Regions from separate parts of the Homo sapiens genome. Here regions 2 and 3 are each linked to region 1. Evidence: fine-mapped expression QTL. A gene starts in region 1. Each other region holds a variant in brackets. All regions are shown on one strand. Distances are from middle to middle.

What was found.
Region 2: its variant is fine-mapped to the expression of DIPK1A in thyroid (GTEx, PIP 0.98).
Region 3: its variant is fine-mapped to the expression of DIPK1A in aorta (GTEx, PIP above 0.99). The same link has a PIP of 0.9 or more in coronary artery, fibroblasts, tibial artery and tibial nerve.

The regions. Positions count from the first base shown.
Region 1 is chr1:92,956,195-92,967,191 of GRCh38, reverse strand. It overlaps DIPK1A (divergent protein kinase domain 1A), which reads left to right and starts at 5,730. Exons shown (of 5, transcript NM_001006605.5): 1 at 5,730-5,816. The coding sequence starts at 5,763. RefSeq lists silencers at 5,370-5,449, 5,610-6,169 and an enhancer at 10,051-10,150.
Region 2 is chr1:92,996,145-93,007,141 of GRCh38, reverse strand. No RefSeq gene overlaps it. Among named protein-coding and RNA genes, the nearest start is that of DIPK1A, 40 kb to the right of the region's middle. RefSeq lists an enhancer at 6,496-6,790. The variant G/C (reference allele first, on the strand shown) is at 6,297.
Region 3 is chr1:92,930,129-92,941,125 of GRCh38, reverse strand. All of the region lies in intron 1 of DIPK1A (divergent protein kinase domain 1A), which reads left to right. It also overlaps the pseudogene MND1P1. Among named protein-coding and RNA genes, the nearest start is that of DIPK1A, 26 kb to the left of the region's middle. The variant C/T (reference allele first, on the strand shown) is at 6,334.

The sequences.
Region 1 (10,997 bases):
TTTTTTTTTTTTTTTAGATGGAGTCTCGCTCTGTCGCCCAGGCTGGTGTGCAGTGGTGTGATCTCGGCTCACTGCAAACTCCGCCTCCCAATTTCAAGCAATTCTCTGCCTCAGCCTCCCGAGTAGCTGGGATTACAGGCACCCGCCACCACGCCTAGCTAATTTTTGTATTTTTTAGTAGAGATGGGGTTTCACCATCTTGGCCAGGCTGGTCTTGAACTCCTGACCTCGTGATCCACCTGCCTCGGCCTCCCAAAGTGCTGGGATTACAGGCATGAGCCACCGCGCCCAGCCACAGTTTTATTTTTAAATGCCAATATTTACAACACAAAACTGAAAATTACTTCCTTTACAATTGTTTAATTTTATGATAAAAATTTTGGATGTTGATATAAAACATCAGAGAATTCATATCTTTTTCAAAATTCTTTTGAGAATGTGCAAACAAGAAAGTTCAAAGACCACCGATCTTGATTTTCCTGTACTGGAACCCACTGGAGTAATTTCTTTGTCTCTGGAAGGCCAAAGTTACATTACATATGATGACTAAGAGGCCACAAATTAGCACCTCTGAACATAACCATATGAATTAGTTTTGGATTAGCTAGCTTTTACTTAGAAAAACTTAAATTTTTAAGTGCCATAAGAACAGGCACCAGCACAAGTACATTTGGATGTTTGTAAAGTAGGTCCAGTATATGACATAAAGGCTGGCCAGGCCTCTGCAGTGAGAGTTCAGGAGAACATCAGACCAGAGGCAGAAAGGATCTTGCCTAAATTTGCCAAGGCCAACGTGCTTGGATCCATCTTGGGACTCATCCAAGTGGATTTATAGCCAAACTGCAAGTTCAGTGGTACAAGGGCTCACCGTACCCACCTGTATGCAAGGTCCTCAGGATGGGCCCTGGAGGGCAAGGGTCCTGGGGCATGTGAAGACAAGGGAAGCAACTCAAGTTGGAAATGAAAATCTTCTAAACTACTTTTCTCCATTCAAATAAAACATTAATTTCATTTAGTCTTGGGTGACTCTAAAAGGAAACCCGAATAACCATTTCTTCTCATTTGGTTCAAATTTTGTCCTTGGTATCCTTGTTTATATCTTTTACCGTGAGAAACACCAGACCACCATGCCTCCCTCACTTCTCACCTGACCCTCTCAAGGCTCTTCACATCACCTATTCTGAACTCTTCTCAAGACTCCCCAGTTTTTGAGGCTTTTCCACTGTGCCCTCTGTCTATCATCAGCAAAATCCTCTATGTCCTCCAACGCTTCTCTAAATATCTCCTGCACCTTCTTGTCCTAACACCAACCTGGCTCATCCCTGTGGATGCTGTTGTCCCTGCAGCCTTCCCAGCGCCCTCATACCACTGAAGTGGGAGGTAGGAGAGGGCTCTTCCATGCTTCTTTTAAGATATTCTTCCTGCTTCCTCTCTAATTCCTGCCCCTGCCCATTATCTTAAAACTCATGTCCTCTGATGTTGTCACTCACCTTCCTCATTCCTCACCTACTCACTCACAGATCACTGTCTTATCAAGGACTTTAGCTTTTGCTACTGACATCTTCCCCAGCACCTCCTGTCCTAAGTCTTACTGTTTTTAATACGCATGCATATAATCTGTATGACAGTCTGTCCTTGACTCTCTTCCAATGATCCTGCCTCCACATCCCTTAGCCATTCACTGCCATGGTGGCATCCCACCCTAGGTTTAATCACTCCTCCATAGTCTCAATTTCATGGATCCCACTAAAATTACCACATTGTTGTGGTCACCCTGCAGAAGCCAGATGGGCTCCTCCACCTAAAATTTAATTTGGACGTTGAGACTGATGATGTTACACTTGCACCAAGAGGGTGTGAAAAGGTTTATTCACATACTGCAGCTTTCTGGGGAGAGCAGGGCAGGCTCCCAAACTGGTTCAAAAATGGCTTAAGGGAGCAAAGAAAGGAGACTATCTTAGGATGTCATGGTGGTTAAGGGGTAGGACCACGGTGAGGGCTCTCTCACATGGGCTGGGTCTTGCACGGTTTGAACTTCCTGCTGGCATCAAAGGCATCTAGGCTTTCTTATGTTTGCACAGAGGAAACAGGAGTGGCAGGGCTTCAAAGCTGTCAGCACATATAAAAAATGGAGTCAGACTTGCAATATAGATATATATTTAGAGACAGTGTCTCACTCTGTTGCCCAGGTTGGAATATATGGAACGATCATGGCTTGTTGCAACCTCCACCTCCTGGTCTCAAGGGATCCTCCTGCTTCAGCCTCCGGAGTAGCTGGGACTACAGGTGCACATCACACTAAAGAGTTTTGTGACAGTTTTTTGGGGTTTTTAGCCATGCTTGGCTAATTTTTAAATTTTCTATAGGAATGGGATCTCACTATGTTGCTCAGGCTGGTCTTGCGCTCCTAGCCTCAAATGATCCTCCCGTCCCAGCCTCCCAAAGTACTGGGTTTACAGACATGTGACACTATGCCCAGCCTCAGACTATTACATACCTCCTATCTTTCCAGATCATTCTCTCTTTTCCCTAGACTCCTACAACCCCTCAACCCCAGAAGGACTTGCAATTCATTGATCCTACCACCTTTTCACTGTCCTTAAACTCTCCATATCCACTCTTCCCTCCTTAATCATCTTAAGTTCCATGGTGAATCATAATCATGCCCTTGCTTATATCCTCAACTTCCTTGTTCTCCTCTCCTTGCTCTTGTTCCTTTAGTAAAATGTGATTAAACAGAATTTCAGCCTACTCTGGACCTGCTTCCTAGGAGCTAATTATTGCTGGAGAAAGAAGCACACTCATACTAACTTGTCTCACTTAAATTCATGACCATAAACTGAAGTGGGCCCTACATGACACTCAACAAGCACACAATTATTCTCTGGTCCATTGTCTTCTCATTCTCCTAGATGACATTTCACACCTTCTCTTCCCTTTTCACATAATCTTTCCCATCTCCTCCCAGCTGATAGCATTTCTTTCTACATCTCTAAGAAAATTGAAGCAATCAGAAGAGAACTTCCAAAGATTCCTATTTACCATGCCTACCCACCTGCCTGCCTGTTTCCATAGATCAACAGTCTGTACTCGTCTACAAATGATCCTTCCACTTGTGTGTTAGTTTTCAAACGCTTTTTCCCTCTCAAGGACACCACTCCAGCACTTCTCACTTCTTGTTTCTACATGAATTTTCCCTTTTCTTCCGGATCATTCCCATTAAAAACAAGTATTTCTCCCCCTACCACCTTCTTTCTCTCTTTTTTTTTTTTTTTAAAGAAACAGGGTCTCACTCTGTCACCCAGGATGGAGTGCACTGATGCGATCATAGCTCACTACAGCCTTGACCTCCTGTGCTTGGCCTCTCCCCATTTTTTTTCAATCTTCTTTTGACTCTGCTTCTACTGTCCCAGATTTGGGCTCCCCTTTGTAAGAGAACTTCTCAAAAGAATTGTTTGTATTAGCCACCTCCAGTTTCTCTCCTCTCATTTTTTTCTTAAAACCACTCCAATCAAGTTTTTCCTCTATTGCTCCACTGAAGGGTTATCAATGGCCTCCATGTCACTAAATCCAACAGTCAATTCTCAGTGCTCACTCGCAGAGGAGCACTCCCTCTTCCTAGATCCACAAGCTTCACTCGGCTTCAGGGCACCTCACTCGGGTCTCCCACTTCACTGGCTGCTCCCTTTCAGTCTCCTTGGCTGGCTCACCCACTACCCTGTCTTAAAGCTGCATTGGTCCCCAGAGCTCCATCCTCAGTCGTCTTTTATTTACACTCACTTCCTTGGTGATCTTAGGCAGTCTCATGGCTTTAAACGCCATCTAAATGCTGATATCTCTCATATACCTCTAGCTTGGACCACGCTCCTTAATCCTAGACTCATTCATACATACAACTGCCTAATCAAGATCTCCACTTCAATTTCTAATAGATACCTTAAAATGGAACTTCTCCAAAACTGAACTCCTCTTTTGCCTCAAACTTCCTCTATTTGTAGTCTTCCCCATCTCCCTTGGTGTTTTCCCCATAACCTTTATTAGCATTCTTATCCAATTTGATTTTATTGATTACATTTATTATTTATTGCCCCTCTCTCTCACATCCACAAGCGCAAGGATTTTTGTCTGTTTTGTTTATGTAACCGAAACAACTTGAATGGTGCCTGGGTACTCATAAATCTTTATTAAATGAATGAATGAAACCACTAGGATTCATCCTTATCTTACTCAGAAATTACTGTCTCTTGACCCAAACAAAATCAATGAAAAATTGGTTTATCTGCAAGCAATAAAATAAGACCAAGTAGCTGTAGTTCCAGCTACATGGGAGGATGGCTTCAGCCCAGGAGTTTGAGTCCAGCCTAGGCAACATGGTAAGACCCCTCTCAAAAACAGAAAGAACAACCACCACAACAAAAATCACCTAGGTTTAAAACCTGTGTCTGTGTGTGGGTTGAGGGAAGGGGCAGACATGAAGGTATCTCTTCAGAACAAGGCACCTGAACAAGGCTTATGCAAAAACCAAGTGAGAATGAGTAATGGTTTGCTTCTGGGGAAACCCCTTCTCAGAGCAACAGGCCGGAATGAGCTCTAACGGGCCACCTAAACTTTGTTAGCATCACGCTTAAACGTGGTAGGTGGGGTAAAAAGCAGCCAAAAAAAAAAAAAAAAAAAAAAAAGCTGCTTCTTCCATTACAAGTCACTTGGATCAACAGCTGTTCTCCCACTAGGGTGGCTCTTTTTTCCCTTATTTGGAACTCATTGTCAAAAGAAAGACACCACACCCTGTGTTATGTAGCCTTAACCAAGCAGCAGGCCACGTCCCAGGCTCCCTGCCTTCAGGACTGTATTTAATTCGGTGTTTTTGTTTTTGTTTTCTTTTGAAATCAGTGTTCCTGGACGGGGCCAGGAAAACTCTGAAGCTGTCTTAAAAACAATATAAACCAAAAAAGTCGGAATTTTTTAAAAGTACATTTTTAAAAAAAGTTGTAGGCCGTTAGAGGCGAACTGGAGCGTGGTAAGGGGGGCACCGAGTTCAGCAGTGGGGCGCCCTGTCCGCGTTCGAAGCTGAGCCCAGTCCTGGGGGGATGCCCCGGTCTGCGTCTCCAGCTGCGGCAGACACCCCCTTCCCCCGACCGCCACCAAGGGCGAGGGAGGACGAGCCAGTCCCCAGGGAAGGAGCCCCAAGCTTCCCTTGAATTTCCAAACAACCCGTCCAGACACGTCCTGACTCCAGGAGAAGAGTCCATGGGGAGCGTCGGTGCTGCCGGGGCGGGTGGCGGGACGCGCAGCTGGGCGCAGCGCGGGGAGCCGGAAGCCGGAGCAGACTGCGAGGCCAGCGCGGTCCGGGGGTCGCCGCATCAGCCAGCGAGAAGCACGCCCCAATCCGCGCCGAGCGTGCGACACCCCCGCTGCCGCGGCGCCCCCTCCCGCCTCCGCGCGCCTCCCCTTTAAGCTCCAGGCGCAGTCGATTTGTGTCGGCGGAGGCGAGGTGCGACTCCCCTTTATGGCGGAGTCGGCAGCAGCCTCTCTGACAGCCGCGGCGGCCGGCGGGCGAACAGGGCAGGAGGCTGGGCCTCTGGCCTCTCGCCGCCTTCACTGCAGCCGGGCCGAGGGGAGCGCGGCGCGCGCCGCGGCGGGGGCGGGGGAGTGGGCGGGCCCGGCCGGGCAGGGGGCGGGGAGGCGGGGGGAGGCGGGGAGCCCGGCCGCCAGCGCTCGGGTCCGCCTCTGACTGCAGCGCGGCGGGGCGATGTGTGATTACCATGGCGAGGAGTCTCTGTCCGGGGGCCTGGCTAAGGAAACCCTATTACCTCCAGGTAGGCCGGCGGCCGCCCAGCCACCAGCTGCGGGAGCACCCGGCCGTGTGCCCTGCCGCGCCGCGCAGGACTCGCCCGCTCCCCTCCTCCCTCCCTGGGTCTGTGCCCGCCCGAACCCCGCTGCCCCCTGCCGTCCGGCACCTGGCGGCGCGCCCTCCCCAGCCCCCTCAGCGGCTCTGCCGACGCCCCCCACCGCGGCCCTCGCGGCTCCCGCGCCGCGGCCAGCCGGGCTCCAGGGCCCGAGTCGTCCCGCCCGGGTACGCCCTCGCATCCTGAGAGCCCCGAGACGTGACCTGGGTACGACCCCGCGCTCCGGGCATTGCCCGCAGCCCTGCGCCGCTCCAGGCGGAGCTCGACGGGCCGCCTTCTCCCTGGTGTTTTCGGGGCTTTCCCCCCTCCCCCGTGGGCCCCCGCAGGTCGGTTGCCCTTGACTCAGTGTCTTGGGTCTTAAGTCGGTGGTAGGAAAGGTGGTGTAGCATTCCTCCGTGTCTTAGAAAATTATGACAATTTGTCACACCAGTGTTTCCCCAGGCTCCAAAAAGCAGCGTGTGCCTCGTGCCGAGCCCCTTGGTTGGGTCGTTCCATCACACCCAAGATTTAAATGGGAGGTGGAGACCGATAAGCCTGAACCAGGCGGATGGGTGTTTGCTTTTTAAAGGAAAGGGGCTAGTGGCTGGTCTGTGGATCCCAAATACCCTAGTAATGCAAACGTAATTCTCAGTCATGTCGTGTGTACGGTTCGCGTGTTAATTTTTCATGATTTCCCGTTCCACCCTCTGTTCCGCTGCCAGTCTGTGCCTTGGAACCCTACTACTGCCTAAGTGTACTGTTTGGTCACCAGGGGGACCTAGTAGACACCGCGAGTAGCTGAGCGCAAATCCATCACTCCGATGGAAAAACAACTACAAATCAATGCCTTGCGTGGGTCAGCAGTGTTAGCCAACGCTGCATTCAGAGGACAGTATTCCTTTACCGCTTACATTAAAAGGCCAAGAGGTAGATGATTTGGGGTCAGCTGGTGCTTTTATAAATTATGAAAAAAGTTGAGAAGGTAACCATCATGAGGCAAGTAAATCTTACATTTTTGTTTGAAAATTGTATGTGTAAGTCATTACCCTGAAATGAGTGACGTATTGCAAATTGGAAGCATGATTTGACAACCCATGATATTAAGCGTGTACGAATAAAACTGAGTCTTTGTAGCAAGCACCACCAATAGTAATTGTGCACTTGAGTAACACTGTCACAACCCCTTCTAGAATTCAACCCAGGCCAGGTACCTCTGTGTAATCTTTTATGTGAGTTTAAAAAAAAGCTTACCGGCCAGGCGCGATGGCTCACACGTGTAATCCCGGCACTTGGGAGGCCGAGGCGGGCTGATTCCTTGAGCTCTGGAGTTTGAGACCAGCCTGGGCAACATTGTGAAACCCCGCCTCTACTAAAAATACAAAAAAAAAAAAAAAAAAAAAAAAGTTGGTTGGGTGCCTGTGGTCCCAGCTACTCCGGGAGGCTGAAGTGGGAGTATGGCTTGAGCCCCGGAGCGGAGATTGCAGTGAGCTGAGATCACGCCACTGCACTCCAGCCTGGGCAACAGAGTGAGACCTTGCCTCTTAAAAACAAAAACAAAAACAAAAAAACGGCCAGGCGCAGTGGCTCATGCACTTTGGGAGGCCGAGGCGGGCGGATCACGAGGTCAGGAGATCGAGACCATCCTGGCTAACACGGTGAAACCCCGTCTCTACTAAAAATACAAAATATTAGCCGGGCGTGGTGGCGGGCGCCTGTAGTCCCAGCTACTCGGGAGGCTGAGGCAGGAGAATGGCGTGAACTTGGGAGGCAGAGCTTGTGGTGAGCCGTGATCGTGCCACTGCATTCCAGCCTGGGCGACAGAGTGCGACTCCGTCTCAAAAAAAAAAAAAAAAAAAAAGTGTTTTACTGTGGAAATTTGTATACCTTCAGAAAACAGAAAACAATAATGAACTGTCATATGCCCATCAGCCACCCTCATCAGTATTTTATTTCATTTCACCTCCCCCACTCCCTCTTCCAACCAAACTTATTTATTTATTTATTCATTTATTTATTTATTTAGAGACGGGTCTCCTTCTGTTGCCCAGGCTGGAGTGCAGTGGTGCCATCTGGGCTCACTGCAGCCTGGACTTTCCAGGCTCAGGTAATCCTTTCACCTCAGCCTCCTGAGAAGCTGGGACTACAGGCGCACACCACCATGCCCAGCTAATTTTTTTAATTTTTGTAGACACGGAGTTTCGCCGTGTTGCCCAGGCTAGTCTCAAACTCCTGGGCTCAAGCAGTCCTCCTGCCTTGACCTCCCAAAGTGATGGGATTACAGGCATGAGCCATCAAGCCTGGCTGAACCAAAGTATTTTAAAGTAAACCTCAGGCATCACATCATTTCATCTCAGTACCTCAATATACATTTCTAATAGATAAAGATATTTTCAGACATAATCATAATACCATTATCATGCCTAACAAAGTTAATAACAATTTATTTTTCCCACCCCTTTCTAGATATGCATCAACCTGAGATTACTAACTAAATTTGATTTGCCATGGAGTGAGTTTACTGTGATTTGGATGGGTCTCTCTGCAAAAAGCAAAACAAAAAACCCTCCTCTTATCAGCTCATTCATGCCACAAATTCTTATGAGGGAAACTAGTTTGATTTCATGTTTTGAAAGAATGTCTTAGAATACAGATGTCTGGTTTAAGTAACTTTTCCTGTGAATGAATGTATTATTTTAATTTAGAGTGAGGGTATAACTATTCAGCAGGTATAAGAGATCTTGTTCTGTTTGGGGGGAGGGGAAGGGTAAGAGTACAGGAAGAAGTTGGATTTATTTCACAGATAGAGGGAAGAGATGGAGGGCCAGGAAGAGGAGAGAAAGGTTGCAGAGACCAGCTTTGTATACTTGCAGTTATGCTGTTTGTCTTTAACTGGATGGGGTCAAAGACCAGTTATGTCCTGAGGTGTTCAGGCCTTAGGAGCTGTGAGTTCCCTTTTTTCTGCAGTGTACAGGAGAAAACTTTTAAGCAGTCAGCTTACTTGTAAAGGAACTTCATTCTCAGTATTTTTATTAATCCAGATATCACTGTGGCATTTGGTAACGCTTTTGGAAAACTGTGGCATTACACAATTAATGATATATTTTCAGCCATAATAGACATTCATGAGCTAATGCAGGCACCTATTCACTGTTTATAGCTTTGCTTATATAGCAGAAGAGATTCTACTGCCTGTGAAGAAAAGAACTTGTGTGGTATATGCATACAACAGAATATTATTCAGCAATAAAGTGAAATGAAGTTCTGATACACACTGTAACATGGATGAACCTTAAAAACATTAAATATATGAAACTAGTCACAAAAGATCACGTATTATTTCATTCATATGAGATGTCCAGAATGGGCAAATCTATAAAGACAAAAAGATAGATTAGTGGTTGCCTGGGGGGAAATGGGGAGTAACTACTGATGGATATGAAGTGTTCTTGAGGGGGACAGAAATGTTCTAAAATTGATAGTGGTGATGGTTGCCCAAGTATGTGAATATACTAAAACCTACTGAACGTTATGCTTTAAATGAATAAATTGTAGGATATGTGAATTATTAGTATATCTCCATAAAACAGTTGAAAAATAAATGAACCGAGTTTATCTCATGAAAGTCGTCCTTCTTCTCTCTGCCTTTTGCTGCAGATTCCACCAAGGTCAGCTTTTTGGTGCAGGGAGCACTTCTTCCAGGGGAGCTGGGCAGGCACACTGTTAGTCTGTGCAGCCTCTCTGTGGGCTAGAAGGACTTGTGACCTGCCTGGAAGGGCCAACAGACGTTTACCTGAGCAACAAGCTTCTCATGGCAAGGCATCTTGCCCAGAGCAAGCAAGCTAATTTACAGTTCCATGTTTTCCAGATATTTTGTTGAAACATTACTTGGGAAATAACACTTCCTGGACTGGCTAAATGATGCAGCACATTGAACAGAGTAGAATCCTGCCTCTGAGATCAGAAACTGTGGATGTATTAACTGCTTAAACCATTTTTAGGCAGTATTTTCTTCCACGTGCCATTATGGTGCATACTACTTGTGGCCTGCTTGGGTGTGATAACCCAGAATGACACCTGCATTTGTCTTTTTTTAGCAGTGTGTTTTCTACAAACTAAGATCTACTTTGTTTAGGGTTTACTCATAGTCTGAGTGAAGCTGATAACACAGCAACCCTATAATTTGTTGGTTTTGGTTTAAAATACCTTCTTCCTTCTCACCATCGTTAAGTCCTGAAAGAATGAAAGTCAAGACAATTCAGCATAATTCTCTGTACTTAGATTATACACATTTTCCATTCCAATCATTCTGCCTATGTGTTCTGTTGCATATGAAAAGTTGGTGCAGTTCTAATGGAATTTGAAGTCCCATGTACTTGGGTCCTTTGAAGGTTTTCAAGCCGTTTTGCTTGTAAGGGGCTTAAAGTTTTAGAAGTATCCTCTTGAAAATGACTGCCCTAGCAATTTCAGTATGTGTTCAGTAGGGTTGTTATGAGTGAATGGGTAGATGGCATGTTCTAGCTAGGGTGTTTGCACTTGTTTAACATTTCTGATACCTGGCACTTTGGCTCGTATTAGTACAATTTTTCAAACATGACTGCTGTGGATGGTTTGGTTCCTTATGAGTTAATGTGGATATTTTGTGAGATTTAGTGCCAGACAGGGTTACTGATACAGATTAATTGGTAATAGTAGTAATGTTGCCAAATACTGTAGTAAAAATGGGCTTTTTGCCCATTTTCAGTCTCCAGGATTATTTTAAATCTAAGGATAATTAGAGCCTATGGTTGTTCTCTATCCTCCAAAGACAATAGAGGGAGAAGATCTGTAGTTTGTATAGTTCTCATTAACTTTATTAGACCTGCTGTTCAGAGATTAGCTTTTGCCTTTGCCTGAAATTTAATCTCCAGAACTATGATTAGCTTTCTGAGACTGGTATGTGTACAGAGAGCCACTTGATATTACCATTAGTTGCTTTTGAACCTTTGTTAGAAGCTCAAAGAAATGGTGAATTCTCAGGCAGATTGCATCCTTACCACATTTCTTTCAAACTGGACCATACAGTAAAAGTGTTTCTTCACTGTAGTCTTCTCAGTGCCTCAGATTTTTTTTTTA
Region 2 (10,997 bases), 40 kb before region 1:
CTCGCTCTGTCACCCCGACTGGAGTGCAATGGTACGATCTCTTCTCACTGCAACCTCTGCCTCCCGGGTCCAAGTGATTCTCCTGCCTCAGCCTCCTGAGTAGCTGGTATTACAGGCACGCGCCACCATGCCTGGCTAATTTTTGTATTTTTAGTAGAGACAGGGTTTCACCATGTTGGTCAGGCTGGTCTCGAACTCCTGACCTCGTGATCCACCCACCTCGGCCTCCCAAAGTGCTGGGATTACAGGTGTGAGCCACCGCACCCGGCCTGATTCCATTTTTAACACATTGATCATTACCTAATATCTATGGGTTTCTCACTTAATATTTTTCTCAACCCCTCTGGAAGAGCAGTGGTCTTCATACTTATTCAGGATAAAATACTGGGAAATCGTGATGCTCTTTGTGACATAATAATGCATTTAATTTTATCTTATGGGATAGGAACAATTTGCTTCCAGAAAAATGGTTGTATGCATGTACTTTTTGGTGAGGCTCTCAGCTTAGCCTAAACTATAATTCAGATGTCCATCTGGGCATGCAGATCCTACAACCACCCCACCGTGATCCCAGATTGGCATTAGGCAAGTAGCAAAAGATCCCTTTTATTTGCATATGTATATAAAAATATAGCAAAAGGAATAGAATGATACTTATCGAGTTTAAAATAATAAATTCACTGGGGGCTGGGTGTGGTGTCTCACGCCTATAATCCCAGCACTTTGGAAGTCAAGGTAGGTGGATCACTTGAGGTCAGGAGCCTGAGACCAGCTTGGCCGACATGGTAAAACCCTGTCTCTACTGAAAATACAAAAATTAGCCAGGCGTGGTGGCACACGCCTGTAGTCCCATCTACTTGGGAGGCTGAGGCAGAGAATCGCTTGAACCTGGGAGGTGGAGGTTGCAGTGAGCCGAGATTGTGCCACTGCACTCCAGCCTGAGCGCCAGAGTAAGACTCAGTCTCAATAAATAAATAAATAAATTCACTGGGCATGATGGTGCACATCTGTAGTCCCAGCTACTTGGGAGGCTGAGGCAGGAGGATCACTTGAGCTCAGGAGGTGGAGGCTGCAATGAGCCATGATTGTGCCTCTACACTCCAGCCTGGGTAAGAGAGTGAGACCCTGTATCAAAAAAAAAAAAAAAATTAAAATAATGATTACTTCTGGGAACCAAGAGGGATAACATTCAAAAGATACTTTAGCATTAACTTAATGTTCCAATATTTTTTAAAGAAGTATATGTGTGCACAAATATGTACATACATAGGCAGAGAGAGAGAGAGACAGAGACAGAGACAAAAAGATGGAGAGAGACAGTGAGACAGAATGTTTTTAAAAATAGTAGGAACATCAAATGTTTTTAAAAATAGCAATGTTTTTAAAAATAGTAGGAACATCAAAAAGGACTTGGAAGCAAATATGCCAAAATATTAACAGCAGTTAATTTTGAGTGGTAGGAATATAACAGATTTTTTTTCTTTATTCGCTTACTTATTTTCTTAATTATTCCTCACTAAATAAAATAATATAAAAATAAAATCAATCACAAAAATAGAAATAAATCACTGCTAAGAAGGCTTTTACTGTATTAAACTGATCGAAAAGCTTAACCTTTTTTTCTCTGCAATACCAAACTCATATTCTTGCACTTTCAGTTCCTAGTTCTAGAATTTCTCTCTATTTCTCTCTCCTTTTTTTTAAACCATTTTATTTTTAATACAGTGCTGATGTTCTGAAACTCTCTGGAGAGGAAAGATGTGAGCATGACCTTGTGGCTTCTCTTGACTTTCCAGAGTCATTTTAGATTCAGAACTGATTACATATTATCTCTAACCAGCAGAGTGATTGAGCTCTTTGAAAAAATAGAATTTTAATGTCTCTTTCTATTAATAGCTTGCATTTTTAATATGCTTTGTTGAGTAGATTAGTCTCAGAATCTGCAAAATCTGTGGTAAAACTTGTTTGATCACAAAGTCTTTGATGGATACAGTAAGTGCTCTGCACCCCCTTTCAGCACTCAGAATTTTAGTAATCACATGGCTGATATTGACAGCTGTAGAAGTGTTCAGGGTAGGGATTTTTGTCTGCTTTGTTCATTGCCATAAGCTTCCCCAGTTCTGAGAACAATAGGTAGGTAGCGTGAAAGTGCTCAATAAATGTTGAATAAATACATTAATTTGAAGCATTTAGGAACACCTTACTTATGTATTGCTTAATTTAAGGGTTTGTCTACTTTCTCTCAGGGTGACAGTCTCTAAGAATATGCATAATAAAGTACGAGGGTTTCAATGTCTTCTCTGATGGAAGAGAAGAAAAGCACCGGGGAATGGGAGCCTAGACTGATCAGGCTTGGGTCACATGCCCACTGGGGGAGTGGGAGGCAGTATGAAGATTGGAGTGAGACTCACTTACGTCAGGAATCCAAAACAGTCAAACTCACAGAAGCATAGAGCAGAATGGTGCTTCCCAGGAGCTGGGTAAAGGGGAAATATAAATGCGGAGGTGTCAGCCAAAGGGTGCAAAAAGAGAGAGTGAGGAGGAATCTTAGGGGTGATGGTGATGTTTATGGCATTGTCTATAGTGACTCTTAAACAGTTGTATACTTATCTTCAGACTCTTCAAGGTGTATATATTAACTATGTACAGCTTTTATGTGTAAATTATACCTCGATTTTAAAAAAATGAATTGGCATAGGAGAGGATCAGCTAAAGAAGGGGAGTGCAGTTAACAAGAGAATAGGACATAGGGCATTGGAAAAGTAAATGCACATGGTATCCATGAGCACATCATAAACTATTCACCACATTAGAAATTTCAGAGACAAAACTTTAAAAGAGAAATAGGAGGAAGATGGTAGGTATGACGGTGAGGGGCAGAAGTTGGAGGAACAGAAGAAGCCAGAATGTGTGAGGTCTAGCACTCTGGGATGAGGACTGAGAGGGAGTCAAGCAGCAGATCAGCAGGCGCAGCAGGTGCAGCAGGCCAGGGCGCAGGGCTGGGGTTTTACTCTGTGTATGGAAAGCTCTCAGAGGGTCTTGAGCCAGGAGGTGACATGATCCATTTCTGTTTTTATTTTTATTTTTTAAATTTAGGGCTGGGCATGGTGGCTCACGCCTGTAATCCCAGCACTTTAGGAGGCCAAGATGAGTGGATCACGAGGTCAAGAGATCAAGACCATCATGGCCAACGAGGTGAAACCCTGTCTCTACTCAAAATATAAAAATTAGCTGGGCATGGTAGCATGAACCTGTAGTCCCAGCTACTCAGGAGGCTCAGGCAGGAGAATCGCTTGAACCCGGGAGATGGAGGTTGCAGTGAGCTGAGATCACCCCACTGCACTCCAGGCTGGGTGACAGAGCGAGACTCCATCACAAAAAAAAAAAACTAAAATTGTACGTATTTATTTATTTATTTATTTATTTATTAGAGACAGGGTCTCACTCTGTGAGCCAGGCTGGAGTGCAGTGTCACAATCATAGCTCATTGCAATCTCAAACTCTTGGGCTCAAGCGATCCTCCTGCCTCAGCCTCCTGAGTAGCTGGGACTACAGGTGCCTGCCACCATGCCTGGCTAATTTTTTAGATATTTATTTTGTAGGGATGGGGTTTTGCTATGTTGCCCACGCTGGTGTCGAGCTCCCAGCCTCAAGCGATCCTCCTGCCTCAGCCTCCCAAAATGCTGGGATTACAGGCATGAGCCACCAGACCCGGCTTATTTATGTTTTTAAAAGCTCATTCTGGCAGCCATGTGGAAAACCGAACACGGGGAGGTAGCAAGAGTGGAAACCTGGAAACTGGTTAGGAAGGTATTTCAGCCATCCAGGCAAGCAGTAGAGAGACATATTAGACTTGTCAGACGTTAAGTGACAATTCACATAGTTAATCGTGATTGGGATATATGTTGCAAAAGGGATGAATAGGGCAACTTGGTCTTGTCTGGGGGATGGGAGGGGAGTTAGCTAAGGTTTCTCTGAGCAAATGACATTTAAGCTGGGACCTAAAGGATGAGTGAAAAGGAGATGAGTAGAAAATTTCTAGCACAAGGGATACTGGTGAGAAGCTTTGAGGCCAGAGAAAGCCCAGCTCACTCCAGGAACTAAAAGGAGGCCAGTGTGCGTGGAGCAGAGAGCAAGAGGGGAAGTTGTGTGAGATGAGGCAGCAGGAGGTGGATCTTCCAGGGTCTTGCAAGCCTTACAAGCCTGGTCACACTATTGGGCTTTAGCCTAAGTGCAGTAGGAAGCCATGGAGAGATTTTAAGCCTAAAAGGAACATCACTTGTTCCCTCACTTAACATTTATTTATTAAGCAATGTCTACATGACAAGACGAGATTCACAGTATAGAAAGAGCACTTTGTAATATGGGATGTTTTTAAGAGGGGGCACAGAGGGCGAGTGGGCAGGCTTCTGAAGTAGATATTGGGAGACCATGGTGCTTTGGGTCACAGAGGTGGGAATGGGAATAGAGGGAGGTGGGGGACATGGTGATTGGCAGGCTGGTGGAGCAGGGGTGAGGGCAAGGCTCTGAGATTGGGCACTGCACAATAAGCACTGGCAGATGGGGTTCAGCAACGGGCTGGGACATTGTATTAGATTCCATTGAGAGTGTGGTCAGTCCCTGGCTTCTTATCCCATGAGTATCTTAGAATATCCTTAGAGGACGGTGATAAGACTTGCAGAATTATAAGACTAGCAGGAATCAGATGACACACTTAACTTAGAATCATTCTAATTGGATTTATTTACAAAGGGTTGCTTATAGAGACGTGGGCAGGGTATAGGGGAACCACAAAGGATAACCCTCGGCCCCAGTGACGAGGGGAGGGAGCAGTCACCAGACGCCAGAAGGAGGTAGTCACATGGAGAAGGTCACCTGGATAGAAGCTGTAATCCTTGGTCAAGGGACTCACAGGGAAGAAGCCAAGGAGTAAAAATTCTTCCTGACTCATTTTCCTCCCTTTCATCAGTCCAGTGCCCCAAATCCCCACTGGTCAACCCCAACCAGAAGCCAGAGGACTTGGAAGCTACAGTGTGGTGTGTTCAGACCAACCTCCAGGTGGAAGTGTGGAACAAAGAATGGAAAATGGAGCTGAAGTGGCAAACAGAAGTCAACCAAACTCAGTCAAACTCAACCAAACATAGTCAACCAAATTTACAATTCAAAGTGTCACTTCTTGGCCTGCATTGGGTTACAATTTTATTTTATTTATTTATCTTTAATAATAGAGATGGGGGTCCCACTATGTTGCTGAGGCTGGTCTCGAACGCCTGGGCTCAAGAAATCCTCCCACCTTGGCCTCCCAAAATGCTGGGATTACAAGCATGAGCCACCACACCCAGCCAAGGGTAAGATTTTAAATATTCTAATTGGGAAACAAAAATGGAAGAAGGAAAATGTGTGAAGTTGTTCCCCAACTGTTGGAGGAAGCCCCTCCATACATCTCCCCTTTAAAAAAAAATTTAAGGAGTTGACAAATAAAAGTTATATATATATTTATGTTGTACCATGTAATGCTTCAATATATGTATACATTGTGAAATGGTTACATCAAGCTAATTAACATTCAACACCTCACCTATTTATGGTCTTAGTAAGACCTTCACCCATGCTTATCTGTTACTCAGGATATTTAGTTGTAAATTCCAATGAAAATAACTTTTTGGTATCTGTAGCTTTTGCCAATCGTTTAGCAAAATCTTCTAAAATACATTTTGAGAAATGTGGATTTTACAGTGAAGTTCAAAGGAATTCAGTTTGCATCCTGCACAAATGTGGATTGTTTTCTGCAAAGACAACATAGGCAACTCTCTGAAGCTTAAGCATATCAGGACTGGGCCATCCTGGCCAAATAACAAAATTATTTCTGCTGTATCATGAATTTGAGTTATCAAGCTTTCTGCCGGTTATTTTGCCCACTAGCCAAGTTACAGCAAATTTGTTTTTCTAAGCACATCGTCTTTTTAAAATCCATGACAAATCATATGGAAAAAATGTCATTCTTGCTTAAAACCCAGCTGGTCAGGACATTTTCCATTTACAACCCAATAAAACAGGTTAGTCAGGTATCTTATTTCTTTGCTCTCTAAAATGTTATAATCCTGGAACAGGCTTTTAATATTTTTCTTAATAGCTCTGGTTTCCACTGAAGTTAACAATGATTATTTGTGGTCTGATAGTTCTCTTGGCACTACACCAAAAACAGAAGCGAGAAAGCACATTCTCAGCCAGAGAGGCTTAACAGCTAAGCCAGACATTCAGCTGAGAATCCAAATTCTTCTCTTCTATACCTCCTC[G/C]CTTCCTTGAGCAAAAATGTCATCTGGCAGGTTTTTTGGTTTCCTAACTCCAGAAAGCTATTTGAGCCCAGCAATTCCCAAAAATGTCACAGCATTTTTAAGTGCATATAAATTCCATCTATTTTCTTAAATAGAATATTTGCCTCCAAGTTAAATCAAGTACTTTCTTCTCTACTTAGAAGGTTCTTTATCAAATATTGTCTTGGGCCAAACTGCAGCCTGAGACTAATCATGTAGGCAGGTCAACAGCAGGTTGTGAGGTGGATACAAACAAAGTGGAATGCTATCCCTTCTCCCCTTTCCTCTTCCTCCTGCAGTCTGTCTCTGCCCCGCAGCCCCTCCTAGGACAGTCTTCCCCTTGAGAAAGGGAAAACAACACTGAGAGGGTGGGGGCAGGGAGGCTGCATGAAGAGCTTGGGAAAGCTTGGTTTCTGGGAAAGCTTGGTTTCTGAACACTTTAACTATCGAAGTTCAAGAGCAACAAAGAAGTTACAGTAAAAAGCCTAAGAAGCAAAAGGCAACTTAATTTAGTCTTTAACTTTAAAAATTAAAAGTAGGGAACAGGAAATTCTACTTAACAGAAGCAAAATTAATTCAAAAAATCCAATTCTAAGTTATAATCATTTAAGGGCAAGAGAGGTGATGGAGAATGAAGGAAAATGAAGAGGGAGAAATAGAAAAGTGACCTTAATGATTGTGAAATTTCTGTGAAATTCCTAAGAAGCACAGGTCTAATGTATTCATATTAGTACTATATATGAACACCCTTAATATATTAATCCCATTTAAAAAAGTACAACCCTTTAAGAAACACAGGTAAATACCACTAGAACTTATTTTTCTAGAAGAGGAAATTGCTACCTAGAACTTAGAAACCTAACCATTCGTAAATCTCTCTATCTTTATTATTTTAAACTAGAAAAACTCTTACTTCTGGGTATGAAAGTGGAGAATGTCATATCATATGCATAGAGAATTGGGTCAAGTTGAAATGGATCAGCGCGATTTCAAGATTCTTTGGAATATTGCCACATGAGGTGGAAATAAGTGGGGTTTTCACTTTTTATAATTGTGACTAGTGGTATTACTCCGTAGGGCTGATGAAATTAACAAAGTTCCTCTGTCCCTCCTTTACATGAACTCAATTCGAAAAGTTGAGGAAGGGCCAGGCTTATGCCTGTAATCTCAGCACTTTGGGAGGCCCAGACAGGAGGATCACTTGAGGCCAGGAGTTCAAGACTAGGCTAGGCAACATAGCAAGACCTCATCTTTACCACACACACACAAAAAATCGCCGAGTGTGGTGGTTCACACTGTGGTCCTAGCTACTCAGGAGGCCAAGATGGGAGGATGACTTGAGCCCAGGAGTTCAAGGCTGCAGTGAGCTATGATGGCGCCACTGCACTCCAGCCTGGGTGACAGAGCAAAATTCTCTCTAAAAAGAAAAGTTGAGAAAAGCCCGCAAATATCTTCCATTTCTTTCATGAAATCTGAATATCCACAGGCCTCTAGCCTGTAAGTACAAATGAGCATTTTTATACACATTTTGTGAGGCGATGATCCCCACCTATTCATGACTACCCCACTACAGTGTTCTCCCTCCCAACTCCACAGCAGTGTTTCTAGAAGTCTCTGGGGAGTGTCTAGGGGTACTTAGGAATTCCACGAGTTCCCATCCCACTAGACTTGTTGGGCATCTCCATGTCATTTAGACATCTGTTTATGGGAGAAGCAAAGGGACTCACCCTCTGGCTCTCAGCTCCCTTTTGGGTAGCCTCACACTGCTCTCTCTTGACACCGTAGGCAGCTGTGTGGCGAGATGGCCTGCAGGTTGCCATGGCTCCTTTGCCCTTGGAAGGCCTGGGAGTCAGATGACGGTCAGGGAAGGGGCTGATGACAGGGGTGAGGTCCAGCAAAGGGGAGACCTAGAGGGAAAAGCTTGGGCCTGGCTCTCCTATTAGAGCAGAAAGATAAAGGAGACTTCTGTAGTTTCTATGATTTCCAGCACAGCTCAGCGGAGCAGGAGACCAAAAGAGAGTTGGGATCAAATTTTGGACCAAAGCTAGAGTCATTTTGCCTGGCTTCATCCCCTGGCTGTATGGCTCTCCAGGACTTATAGGTGCCATGTACGTAACTGGCCAGTTACATACAACACAGCTCACTCCATATGTCTTGTGTCAGAGATGCTCACACAGACAGGGTTTGGGTACATTTTCTTTTATTTGCTTTAAACTTCCACCAGCAACCTCAGAAAATCTCTCTATGGACAACTTAGTACACTGACATTAACTCCTCCCACCACAAAGCAAATCAGCCAAGATGTATGAAAATAAGTTTTATTAAAACCAATTTGTGAAAACTAATTCCTGTTCATCTTTAACAGTCAAGTTACAGGGTTCCAAAGTCCATATAATTCCTCAAAAACTTTTCCTTGGGTCACTCACAGTACTGGGGGTTCCATGGTCATTCCTGACTGTTCATTCGCTTAATTTCTTGCTTTGATAACATGGCTTTTCCAGCTCTCACTTATTTGCCTGACTTCTGACCTGACTCTCATATACCTGGTCAGACCTGGGTCAGACCCCTTTTCCATGCGGGGAGATTGGCCTGACTCCTTTAGGCAAATGGAAGGCAGACCCAGAAGCAGGGCTATCTCTTTGCAGGCCTGGAGGCTATAGAGTGGAAGGCAAATTCTACAACTGTGGCCAAAATCGAGAGCCAGTCTAAACCAGAGAAGTGTGTCCAAATGGGTCATCAGGACAAAGGGGCTCAGTACTGGTCAAGGTGGACAGAGTGAGAGGAGGGAGATCTGGGGTAGCAAGATTGAGTAGGGTAGCAGGATTAATCTCACAGAAACTGATACCTGGGAGATGTTCATACACTTCTTTGGAAGGTGTTGCACAGGCAGGCCACACCCATTTAAAGGCAGCAGGATGGGATGAACAGACAGTTCTCTGACTATGTCCTGACAGGACCTCATTCTCTGCCCACATGCTCCTCCCTAGCCTGTTACAAACGCCACCTCCCACCCCCAGAGCTCACCTAGTTTCTGCCATGACCTGTGAAATCTGTATCTCCCTAATTTCTATTGATCTTGTTTATAATTTGTAATTCCTTCCTTTGCATTGGCCTCTAATTTTTATGGGCACCTGGATAAAATATTTACTGATCACTTCTTGCCCAGCTGACATAAGGAACCCTTGTCTTTTTCTGAGTGCTGTATCTAGTAGAATAGCCCAGACCTTGAAGTTAGGCAGGTCTATGTTTGGATCTCACCCTGCCAACTTGCCAGTTGTGTGATTTTGGTTAAGTTACTAACTACTCCAAGCCTCAATTTTCTCATTTGTCAAATATGCACAATGAGATTATTGTGAGGATTATGTGAGACTTCATATATAAAATAAATGGCATAATGCCTGGCAGAATATATACTTTGCATTCGCCTTTCTTTTGAACTCATTTTGTAGGGGAAAAGTGAGTGAAGAAGCCATGGTTTTGTGGGCACCTAAAGTTCTGTTTTATATATCACCAAGAAGAGAAATAGGATTCTCTGGGTTTATGGGAACCTAATAACTAAAGTTCCTGGCAATAGATGAGTCGCATGATGTCTTAATCCTAAAATTAAGAATCATAAGAAAAGCAGTGGTATCTGCAGTGTCCATGGCACCATTTAACACTATTCAAACATTTCAGGCAAATCTCAGTAGTAATGTGTTTTGCAGTAGCCCTTTTGATTTTTTGCTTGGCAAACTGTCATGACCTAATGGTTAGAAAGGGACTTGGATAGAAAAAGGGAAACCCCGAATATTAATCAGTTCCCATGCTTATGAATAGTAAACAGAATTAAAACTGCCTGATGAAATTAATTTATTAAAAACCTCTTTAATAGAGCAAAAAGAATTCCAAAAAGGAAAATATGTTGGCATTATATGCCTCTAAAAAAGTATTTTTTTTTCAATAAGGCCGATGGCAGAAAAAATATAGATAATTAATCAGAATAAATGTAGTTAAGAAAAACTATTTTGGCCAGGAGCTGTGGCACACACCTGTAATCCCAGAACTTTGGGAGGCCGAGGCAGGCAGATCACTTGAGGTCAGGAGTTTGAGACCAGCCTGGCCAACGTGGTGAAACCCAGTCTCTACTAAAAGTACAAAAATTAGCTGGGCATGGTGGCGTGCGCCTGTAATCCCAGCTACTCGGTGGGCAAGGCAGGAGAATCGCTTGAACCCGGGAGGTGGATGTTGCAGTGAGCCAAGATCACGCCATTGCACTCCAGCCTGGGGGACAGAGCGAGACTCCGTCTCAAAAACAAACAAACAAAAACAAACCCAGGAAGTGAAGAAAAACTCAGGCAAAGGTTTAGTAATAAATAATAAAAATGATTAAGTGACTGACAGTAAAGAAATTAAGTGGCCCTCATAAATGCATCCTGACTCAGGAAAAACACTCAATGATTCAGAAGCAATGGAGATAATACCATGATCTATAGACAAATCTGCTGGATGATGGGCACCTGGGGAAAGCAGGGAAGTACGTGCTATAAAATAGGCACCTGTGGCTTGTGACTGGCCTTGACAGCCTAGAGTCCTCCAGTTCGCCTATGCAAAGATCTCATTCCAGGCAGAGGATCTAGAAGTCACCAGGCTAAACTTGCTAATATCCTTGTACTTACCCCGACCCTTCCAGAGTGTCTGAGACTT
Region 3 (10,997 bases), 26 kb after region 1:
GATCTTATCAAAATTAAAATCTTTTTCTCTGCTAAAGACCCTGTTAAAAAGATGAAAAGACAAGCTACAGACTGGGAGAAAATATTTGCAAATCACATATCTCACAAAGGACTAGTATCTGGAATATACAAAGAACTCTCAAAACTCAGTTTTAAAAAATAGTCCAGTTAGAAAGTGGGAAAAAGACACGCATAGACATTTTACCAAAGCTATATAGATGGCAAGTAAACACAGATGAAGACATTCAAGCTTATTAACCATTAGGGAATTGCACATTAAAACCGTGATGAGATATCATCAGAATGACTAAAATTAAAAATAGTGAAAACACCAAATGCTGGCAAGGACGCAGAGCAACTGGATGATTCATACATTGATGTAAAATGATACAGCCATGGAAAGCAGTTTGCAACTATTTAAACTTATGGTGAAAAATTGTAGATGTCAACTTAAAAATATGCAAGGGGGTATATAGTTTTCAAATTATTTGTGGGATCCACAAACAAAAATGCTAGAGTTTAAAACCATAATACCTCCATTGCTGAAAGGGCTACATTCCAAAAGAATGCCTTTTAAGAAATCAGAATCTTAAATATCAGAGGTAGTTGAAATATTAAGGAACTTGGCATTTGTCTGTTAAGGGGTAGAATTGTAGTACCAAAAGTCCCTTAATTAAATGATAATCACATAAAATATGGCACTAGTAAGAGTAAGAAAAAGAAGTGTTGTACTATGTTAAGATGATGTTATTGGCTTTAAATGCCTATTTTTAAATCAAGGTCAAGGGATGTGCTCGGACAGATGTGTTCAATAGCCATGTTCTAAACAGGCAAGAGAGAAAAAGGAAAGGCAAGTCAGGGGAGAGTTGTGTTTTTAGCAGTCTGTGTTGGGTAGGGCAGAGTGATGTCGGACACTCATCTCTACTCCCAGAAATCACCCTGAAAGGACTACATCAGGTTTACCTTTAGGTAATGCATGATTTCAGATTTCCTATTTCTAGCTCCCCATGTATGGAAAATCTCTATATATGCTTGATGATGCTGTCCCAGTCTTCTTAAATGGGGGATTAAGCCTTCCATTTCACCATTAGCCAGCTTAATATACAGGTACTTAAAGGATTAGTTATAGTATAAATGAATTTCAGTCATTTGATAAATATAGTTGTTTTTTTTTTGAGACAGGGTCTCACTCTGTCGCCTAGGCTGGAGTGCAGTGGCGTGATCTCAACTCACGGCAACCTCTTCCTCCCGGGTTCAAGTGATTCTCCTGCCTCAGCCTCCTCAGTAGCTGGGATTACAGGCATGGGCCACCACTGGCTAATTTTTGTGTTTTTTGTTAGAAACAGGGTTTCACTATGTTGGCCAGGCTGGTCTTAAATTCCTGACCTCAAGTGATCTTCCTGCCTTGGCCTCCCAAAGTGCTGGGATTACAAGCATGAGCTACTGCTTCCAGCCCTGATAAATGTAAATTTTCTATGATCATTTTTTAGTTGACAGAGAAGAATGTGGGAGGAAAGGGGTATCATTGGGTGGAAGGGGGCATATGGGAAGGTGGGGAAGCAGAGGGTTAAGCTTTGAAGTCTACAAATAGAAGCAGAAGTGAGGTATTTTAGTCTTGCTAATGTATTACTTCACATGATTTAGGAATGTTTTGGTTAATTTTTAAAAATACTGCTGACTGCTCTATTAAGAAATTTGTATCCCTGAAGATTAATTAACCTAAAATATATCCTATTAAATTAGACTAATGCAAAAATGGCCTATAGCTAGATCTACCCAGTGAATGTAAAAGTCATTCGGTTATGTAGACTTCCCTCCCCAAAGGTGATAGAAATTCAGTGTACAAAATGATAGTATTTGGTTATAAATGTCTTATGTAGCAAGTATTTTTATTGAAGTAATTTTGAATTTAAAGAAAAATGGAAGGCCAGGCGTGGTGACTCACACCTGTAATCCCAGCACTTTGAGAGGCCGAGGTGGGCAGATCACCTGAGGTCAGGAGTTCGAGACCAGTCTGTCCAACATGGTGAAGCCCCGTCTCTGCTAAAAATACGAAAAATTAGCCAGGCGTGGTGGCGGGCGCCTGTAATCCCAGCTACTTGTGAGGCTGAGGCAGGAGAATCACTTAAATCCGAGATGCAGAGGTTGCAGTGAGCCGAGATCACACCACTGCCTCCAGCCTGGGTGACAGAGCAGGACTCCGTCTAAAAAATAAATGATAAAAGTAGAAAGAATTCTGACATTATCCAACTTTAAGGTGAATAATATGCTTTAGCATGAGATTTCAAGTATATGATTTGACTTGTGTCAAGCTCCTTTGTCCTTCTGACCCTTATTTTTTTCATTTACCAGTGAGGTGATGATTGATAGGACAGTTTTTTCTTACCTCCCTAATAACAATTCTGGGAGAATTAATTCATTATTGAAAGAGGAATTCTTTAGCCTGCTCATAAAATGATATATCCAAAAATTATACATTTTTGAATGACTTTCCAAAAATACATTATGGCTTTCTATGTTGGACTCTTGCTATTTTTAGAATTTTTTGAAGTCAAATTAGTGAAATGGCTAGTTTCTCCTTTCAGATTAATTGTCTGTCTTTGGTATATGTTTATGAGTTGCCTTAGAGGAATCAACTTTTTTTTTTTTTTTTTTTTTAGTAAAGGTCTCGCTCTGTTGCCCAGGCTGGAGTGCAGTGGTGTGATCACAGCTCATTGCAGCTTTGACCTCCCTGGGCTTAGGTGATCCTCCCACCTCAGCCTCACCTCAGCCTCCAGACTAGCTGGGACTACAAGTATGCACCACCATGGCTGGCTAATTCTCCTGGCTCAGCCTCCCAAGTAGCTGGGATTACAGGTGTGCACCACCATGCCTGGCTAATTCTTCTGGCTCAGCCTCCTGAGTAGCTGGGACTACAGGTGTGCACCACCATGCCTGGCTAATTCTTCTGGCTCAGCCTCCTGAGTAGCTGGGACTACAGGTGTGCACCACCATGCCTGGCTAATTTTTGTATGTATTGTAGAGACAAGGTTTCACCACGTTGCCCAGGCTGCAGTTACATTTTTACTTGAAAATCGTTCATTTCTAATGCCTTTTTAATTTTTTAAATCAGAAAAGAACAAATTTGTTCTGCCAGACTATTATTAGGTTCCTAATTCTGTGAAGCTGTGACCTGGGGTAAAGGTTAATCTGTAGTTAGCTTAAAACCAGTTTCATTACTAGCCTTTACAGTATACTTTGGTATTTATCCAAGATCGGGGTGCTGGCTTTTTATGTGAAAGGCCAGAACCTTAAGTAGCAAGAAAAAGTAGTCCTTAACTTTTCATTAAAGTATAACATGAATATTGAAATGTACATTTATGCTCAAGGAACACCATTTTACCAGCATGCTAGATCTGCAGTCAGTTAGGAATTGATTTTTGTATATGGTATAATTACAGTTAAAGATACATGTATTTTTTCCAATTAGATATTCAAATGACCTGGTACTGAGATTTTTTAAAAAGCAGCATTGTCCAAAAAAGCAACTTTGGCAATAGTTGGTTCATTCACCACTAGAATGAATTCCAATCCTAGCCCAAAAGGAGGCTGAAAGATGTGTCAGAGCCTCTTTTTCTTTCCGGATCACCATTTAGTCTGTAAAAAATAAAGCATGTGGGGATTTCTGTTGTGATCCCCACAAATTGAAAGTCACATCTGCAAAAGTTAGATAGAAGTATATCATGCAGTATCTGTGAAGTAATACTTGCAAGGTATTTATGATAGGTTAGTCACCAGTTAATGTGCTAGGAAGAAGTCACCATGCCCGGCTATTTTTTTTTAATATTTTTTAGTAGAGACAGGGCTTCATGTTGGCCAGGCTGGTCTCAAACTCCTGACCTCAGGTAATCTGCCCGCTTCAGCCTCCCAAAGTGCTGGGATTACAGATATGAGCCACCATGCCCAGCCTTGGATTAGCTCTTTATGATTCCTTAATCCTTTTTTCTAGTACCTTACAAATTAATTTTTCTGTTTTACATCTGTTAAGAGACAAAGGACTTAAGTGCAATTAAATTGGACATAAAACTGGTAAGAATTTATTACATAGTAAAACTCATGATCCTATTCAATTGTAAACTCTTGGTAGCTAGTGGGTACAGGGACTATGTTTATGCTTTTTGGATTTCCATAGAGTGAATGAACAGTGAATTGCATGTAAGGGTATCTATATCTTTGTGAATTCACAGTTGTCTCAAGTAGTAGAAAAGCAAAAGTAAAAGTTGTTTTTACAGTTGATTTACAGTTTTCACCAAAGATCTAAATGACCTGTGTATTAAACAGGATCAAACTTCATCATCCAGGACCATGTATAACAGCACTCAATAAAGCAATAGATAAAGGGTCTTGATGTCTGATAGTGCTGCGTGGTACTTGCTATGGAGGGTCTGGCAGAACTGGACTAAAACAGCTTCTCTGAGCTTCTTTCTTTCTTCTTTTTCTTTTCTTTTTTTTTTTTTTGAGACGGAGTTTCGCTCTTGTTGCCCAGGCTGGAGTGCAGTGGTGTGATCTCGGCCCATCGCAACCTCAGCGTCCCGGGTTCAAGCAATTCTTCTGCCTCAGCCTCCTGAGTACCTGGGATTATAGGCATGCACCACCATGCCTGGCTAATTTTTGTATTTTTAGTAGAGTTGGGGGTTTCTCCATGTTGGTCAGGCTGGTCTCAAACTCCCGACCTCGGGTGATCTGCCTGCCTCGGCCTCCCAAAGTGTTGGGATTACAGGCGTGAGCCACCATGCCCAGTTTCTCTGAGCTTCTTTTATGTTCTTCTGTTTTCCCTTCAGAAAAACTATACTTAGGTTTTCAAAGCTGCCTATTTAGTTAAATGAATGCAGAAAGATGTGATCCAGATTTCCATAACTTCAACTCTGTACTGCATTTTTCTGACATTGTTTTTCTTGCTGACTCTATGCAGAGCCAAATCTACAGCTTTTTTATAGTAGAGATGATGTTTCCTGTGAGGTTTTTTTGTTGTTCTTATTGTTGTTCTTTTGTTTTTCTTTTTGAGATGAAGTCTCTCTCTGTCGCCCAGGCTGGAATGCAGTGGCGTGATCATAGCTCATTGCAGCCTTGAACTCTTGGGCCCAGGTGATCGATCATCCCACCTCAGACACCTGAGTAGCTGTTCCAGCCACCAGAGTAGATGTTCCAGCCTGGCTAATTTTTATCTTCCTATTTTTTGTAGAGACAGGGTCTCGCTTTGTTACCCAGGCTGGTCGTGAACTCCTGATCCTCCCGCCTCAGCCTTCCAAAGTGCTGGGATTACAGACATGAGCCACCATGCCCAGCCATTTCCTGTGTTTTAATGTCTTTAGTTAGTTAGTTATAGAATAGTGAGGGATTTTTTTTTTTTGCTCAGTTACTTGAACACGTTATAATATAATAAGGATAACATAAAGATCTTATCCTTGAGTTGTCTGGAACTGTATTTTAAATGATAAAACTAATTTCAGTGACCCTGATTGACCCTGTTGATTTTATAGATAAGGACGAAACATGTTCAGGTCACGCAGCTAGTCAGTAGCAGGGATAGCACTTAAATCCTGGTCTTGTGACCTTGATTCCAGTACCCCTCTCTGCTTTTAAATATATTGAGCCGTAATTTTTAAAGAATCTCCCCAAGTTTAAAGATTCAGAATTTATTAATTGTGTTTTAATAGTTTTAAAACCATTTCTAATCTCATTTTATTTTGGTGACTCTGGGACTTAAAATACATAGTTCTTTAAAAAACTGTTATATTAATATATAGTATCTCACAAAATAAAAGTATATTGCAATTTCTAGCAAAACACTGAACGGGAATGTCAAGTTATGAAATGACTTAGATTAAAAGAGTTTAAGATGTGAGCAACACGTTCTTTTTAGTATTATTTAGACAGTAGTGTTGCTCAATAGAGAGGTGGAAATATTGAACTGGGAATCTCAAGACCTGTGTTTTGTCCTGTCACCAACTAGCTGTATGATTCTGAGCAAATGACCCACCTTCGCTGGGCTTCAGTTTGCTTGTCTGATACATAAAGGAATAGAGCTAGAATTAGAACTATCTCTTCAGTAAATAACTCTCACTGTTGCTGAATGTGAGAAGTCAGGCAGAGCACATTTGTTGTCAGAAGTCTTTGGACATGAAAATGATCTGTGCCTAATATTCTTCATCTTGACGCTAGTAAGTAACCACAGGCCCGCCAGCCAGCCAGCAATCAATCTCCATCTGTAGAACTTCCATTGTTGTCCATGTATAGCAGTCTGGAGAAGGGCCAGGTTTTATTTTTGCCAGGAACTCTCTTGGCAAATCTGTAT[C/T]CCTAGGGATGTCTGTTTAATTTTGTGGTGCAGAGCACAGTTTAGTGAAAAAGAAGAGGAATGCTGAGCTATTTGATTCTGAATGCTTTCAGAGATAGATCATTTTCATTTGTTTCCATAGTATCTATGTTTCAAGATGTTTTGAGGGAGAAGGTGAGCCAAAATAAGATGAAAAGAGGAAGGTGAGAAACCTTCCAGTATATGCTGACTCAGGAAATACATTTGAACTATGCAAGTATGTGTGTTTCCACAAATAGAAAACTTCTGATATACATATCCAGATTTGTCATTTTAGCTTTTCTCATGCATAACTTTTTGATTTTAAACTAGTCTCCTAGATTTAAACTGTTAAGAAAAAAAAACTTTTATGGAAAATTGGCATATTCTACTAGATATTTCAAAACTGTCCCATTATCTTGCCTTCTGGAAATAAATATAAAAGTATTTGAATTTGAATAAATTCTCCACTTTTTAAATTCATTTATAAAGATCTCAGTTTACATCTAGATTTAACATTCATTTGTTCAAGAAAATTTATTTTGTGACCAAAAGTTGTATGCTGAAAATTAAATACCTGAATTTCTTAAACCATAGAAATAGATCAAGTTGAGGTTGCATTTAGTTAAAATGCCAGTGTGTGTTACCACTGACCTTCATTTTTTATTATCTAAAGTTTTTCAGTCTTTCATACCTTTAACATCTTTTTCTTCTAACTTTCATATCCATTTGTTGACAAATCCTAAGAAGTTTACTTTCATAATGTCTCTCAAATTTCACCCTTTATCTTCACTGCTGTTGGCCTATCCTAATCCAGAAGGGCCTAGATTGCTGCAACAACTTCCTAACTAGTCTCCCTTTCCTCAGTATTACCTTTAAAAGTCTTAAGCTAACATCCAGATTAATCTTCTTTAAACATCAGACTGTATATCTGTTTAGAAATCTTAAAACTTCTTCATTTAAGTCTCAATACTGTCAAGCATTTAAAGCCCTTTATGTGTGGTCCTTTCTTTTCCATCCAACTGAATTAATTCAGCAAATAGTGTTGCAAGCAGCGATATGTGAGGCACTGTGCAAAGATAAAGATAAATCAAATCTAGCTTCTTGCAGATATAGGTCAGCATTAATGTCAACACATCCGGGATTTTTTTTTCCTTTTAGAAACTTGTTCTACTTCATTCCATTCCACTTAAATTATTCTTGCCCAAGATATCAGTGATGTCCTCATTGTTAGATTGGGCAGTTTTCTTTTCCTTTTTTTAAGAAACAGGGTCTTGCTATATTGCCCAGGCTGGTCTCAAACTCCTGGCCTCAAGCAGTCTTCCTGCCTTGGCCTCCCAAAGTGTTGAGATTATAGATGGGAACCACCCCACTGGGCAGTTTTCAATATGAATTTTACTTTACTTTGTTATGGCATTATATACTATTGACCATGCCTGCCTCCCTGATACTTCTTCCTTCTGTAGTTTTTAGGTATAGAAACTATTCACCTTTTCAGTTTCTTCTTAGAACTTTTCAAAGGAACAAAGTTTTAGTTCTGTTGATTTTTATTTTAAGTTATGTTCTGTTTCATTAGTTTCTATCTTTATTATTTCTTTCCTTCTACTTCTTGGGTTTTGGGGGTTTTTGTTTGTTTTTCTGTTCCTTTTCTTCTTCTTGAGATGTATGTTTAGCTCTTTCATATTTTAAAAAATATACTTTAATTTTTAGAGCAATTTAAAATTTGCGGCAAAATTAAGCAGAGCATTGTCATATACCCCTCTGCCCCACACATGTACAGCCTCCTCCACTATCAACATCCCTCACCAGAGTGGTACATATGTTACAATTGACAAACCTACACTGACACATCATTATCTCCTGAAGCCCTTAGTTTACATTAGGGTTTACTCTTGATGTACATTCTTTGGGTTTTGACAAGTGTATAATGGCATGTGTTCACCATTATGTTATCAATCAGAGTAGTTTCACTGCCCTAAAAATCCTCGGTGCTCCACCTGTTCATCCCTCCAACCCTTAGCAACCACAGATGTTTTTACCATTGTCTTTTCTAGAATATTATGTAGTTGGAATTCCACAGTATGTATGTAGCCTTTTCAGATTGGCTTCTTTCACTTAGGAATACACATTTAATCAGGTAGGGTATGTCTGACAAATAATTTTCTAAAATCTTAAAATGACTACAAAAGGAATACACATTTAAGATTTCTCTACATCTTTTCATGGCTTGATGGTTCATTTCTTTCTCTTTTTTACATTTTATACTTTAATAAAATGATAAACACTGTTACAGGTAAAAGACAGTTCAGTACATTTAGTTGGATAAGATTTTTAAAATTTTTAATTTTTTTTTTTGAGACAGAGTCTCGCTGTGTTGCCCAGGCTGGAGTGCAGTGGCGTGATCTCAGCTCACTGCAACCTCTGCCTCGCAGGTTTAAGTGATTATCCTACCTCAGCCTCCCGAGTAGCTAGGACTACAGGCATGTGCCACCACACCTGGCTAATTTTTGTATGTTTGGTAGAGATGGGGTTTCACCACGTTGGTCAGACTGGTCTCGAACTCCTGACCTCAAGTTATCTGCCCGCCTCGGCCTCCCAAAGTGCTGGGATTACAGGCATGAGCCACTGTGCCCAGCCTAGTTGGATAATATTTAAAAATTTACATATTTGCGAGCTCGTAGATTCTTTACCACCCTGGTATATTTTAATCTATGTAGTCAGAGTCTTCTGGAATTCCGAAAGTTTTATCAATTTTATTTTCTTCAAACCCAAATTTTCTTTTGGCCCAAGATTTTATTGCAAATATGTTATCAGTCTATCTGTTAGCAAGTACTTTATTTGCCTGATGTATTTCTTCAACAACTTGCGGGTCACATTATTTGCATTTTTCAACTTCTGCCTTTGATCCAAGAGTGAAGAATGCTCTTTGGCTAACACGGTTCACTCCTTCATCTCATGTTGGCCAATTTTAGTTTTTCTGATGCTTTTCTGTAAGTTTGCATGCTTTTGGCTTCCCTGAAACAACTGAGATTTCAGAACCTCCAATTTATACGTTCTTGCATGAAGAATTTTACTTGGAAAAGACTGATAATAATTAGAAGTTCCAGTTCTCTCACAGTCAACCATATCATTATCAACTAAACTTTGAAGGACTTTTTTCTTTTACTAACACAGCAGTAATGCCTTTCTCTTTGGGAGCAGTCCTCTCCATGTCTTTTTTTTTTTTTTTTTCAAGAGATGGCATCTCGCTATGTTGGCCAGATTGATCTTGAACTCCTGGCCTCAAGCAGTCCTCCTGCATCAACCTCCCAAAGTGCTACTATTGCAAGCATGAGCCACCGCACCTGGCCTTCTCCATGTCTTTTAATTGAAATACATCTTTTGTTTTAAAAAATGTTTCCATCATGCAGGCTCTCTTTTCTTCTGCACTCAGTCCTTTTTTCTTTGATACGGTGTGGGCACCAGGCCTTCCAATGATGGGGTCTGCACATGGGGTGAGGGGCCAGCTCATTTCTTTTTATTGCTAAATAATTGTCCATTGTCTGATGTACCGCAGTTTATGTATCATCCACCTACTGAAGGACATCTTGGTTACTTCCAGGTTTTGCCAATTATATGAGAACTTTGTACTTTCTGTTCAGTTTTTCTGTAAACCAAAAAAAAATGCTCTAAATAATAAATCTATTAATTTAAAAAAATAAGAAAAAAGAATCTGTCTCTCCATTCATTCAACAAACATTTGTCAAATATCTAATATGTGCCAAGCAAAGAATGAAGTACTAGAAGTAATCAATTACATAAGACATATTTCTTTCAAGGAGTGTAGTCTAGTGGGAAAAGTAAGTCAACAATTGGAGTGATATTTGTATTTCAGAAGTGTGTATAGAGTGTTACAGGACCCCAGGAAGGGACCATCTTAGTCTTAGTTGGTATAGGGGAGGGAGAGACAGAAAAGGCTTTTAAGAAGCCATGTTTATTGGAGACTTTTAGAATGAGTATCAGTTGACTAGATCAAAATTTGTGTGTGAGGGCATGGGCACCTTGAGATAATATTCTGTATAGAGTAAACAGTATCAGAAAAGGCATAGAAAGAAGAAACAGCATGGCATGAACAGAGAACTACAAAAAGTTCTTTCCTTCGCAAAAGAAAAGATTGCGTTTGGGGGTATTCAGGTCATGAAACTAAGAGGGTAAATAATACCTTGAAGGGCCCTCTGTGTTAAATGAATTAGAATTGGTTCTATATCCTGAAGGCTAAGGAGAGTTACTGATGGTGGATTTAGTTAATATGAGAAGATTCCTCTTTTTGTCTTCTGCAAATACATAGAAATGCTGGATAAAATATAAGCTCCCTTTCTCAGTTTTTTTTTATTACTACCTAATTAAGTTTGAAAGCAAGCAAAGGAAATCTCCAGATACCAGAAATGACAAGAAAACTCAAACTCAGATATGAAAGAGAGCTAAAGCCAAAATGGCCAATGGGGAGTGGGAACCATAGTTTTAAGGGCTATATGAGGTGAGGAGAAAAGACTTTAGGCTTCTGAGAGTCAGAGAATTGCAATTGACCTGTGTGTTTAAAATTGGGAGCCACAAAAGGCCATGCTTTTGAGGAAGAGTATTCAACAGCATCACTCCCCTGGCTTACAAAAGCAACAAGGACCTGTAAG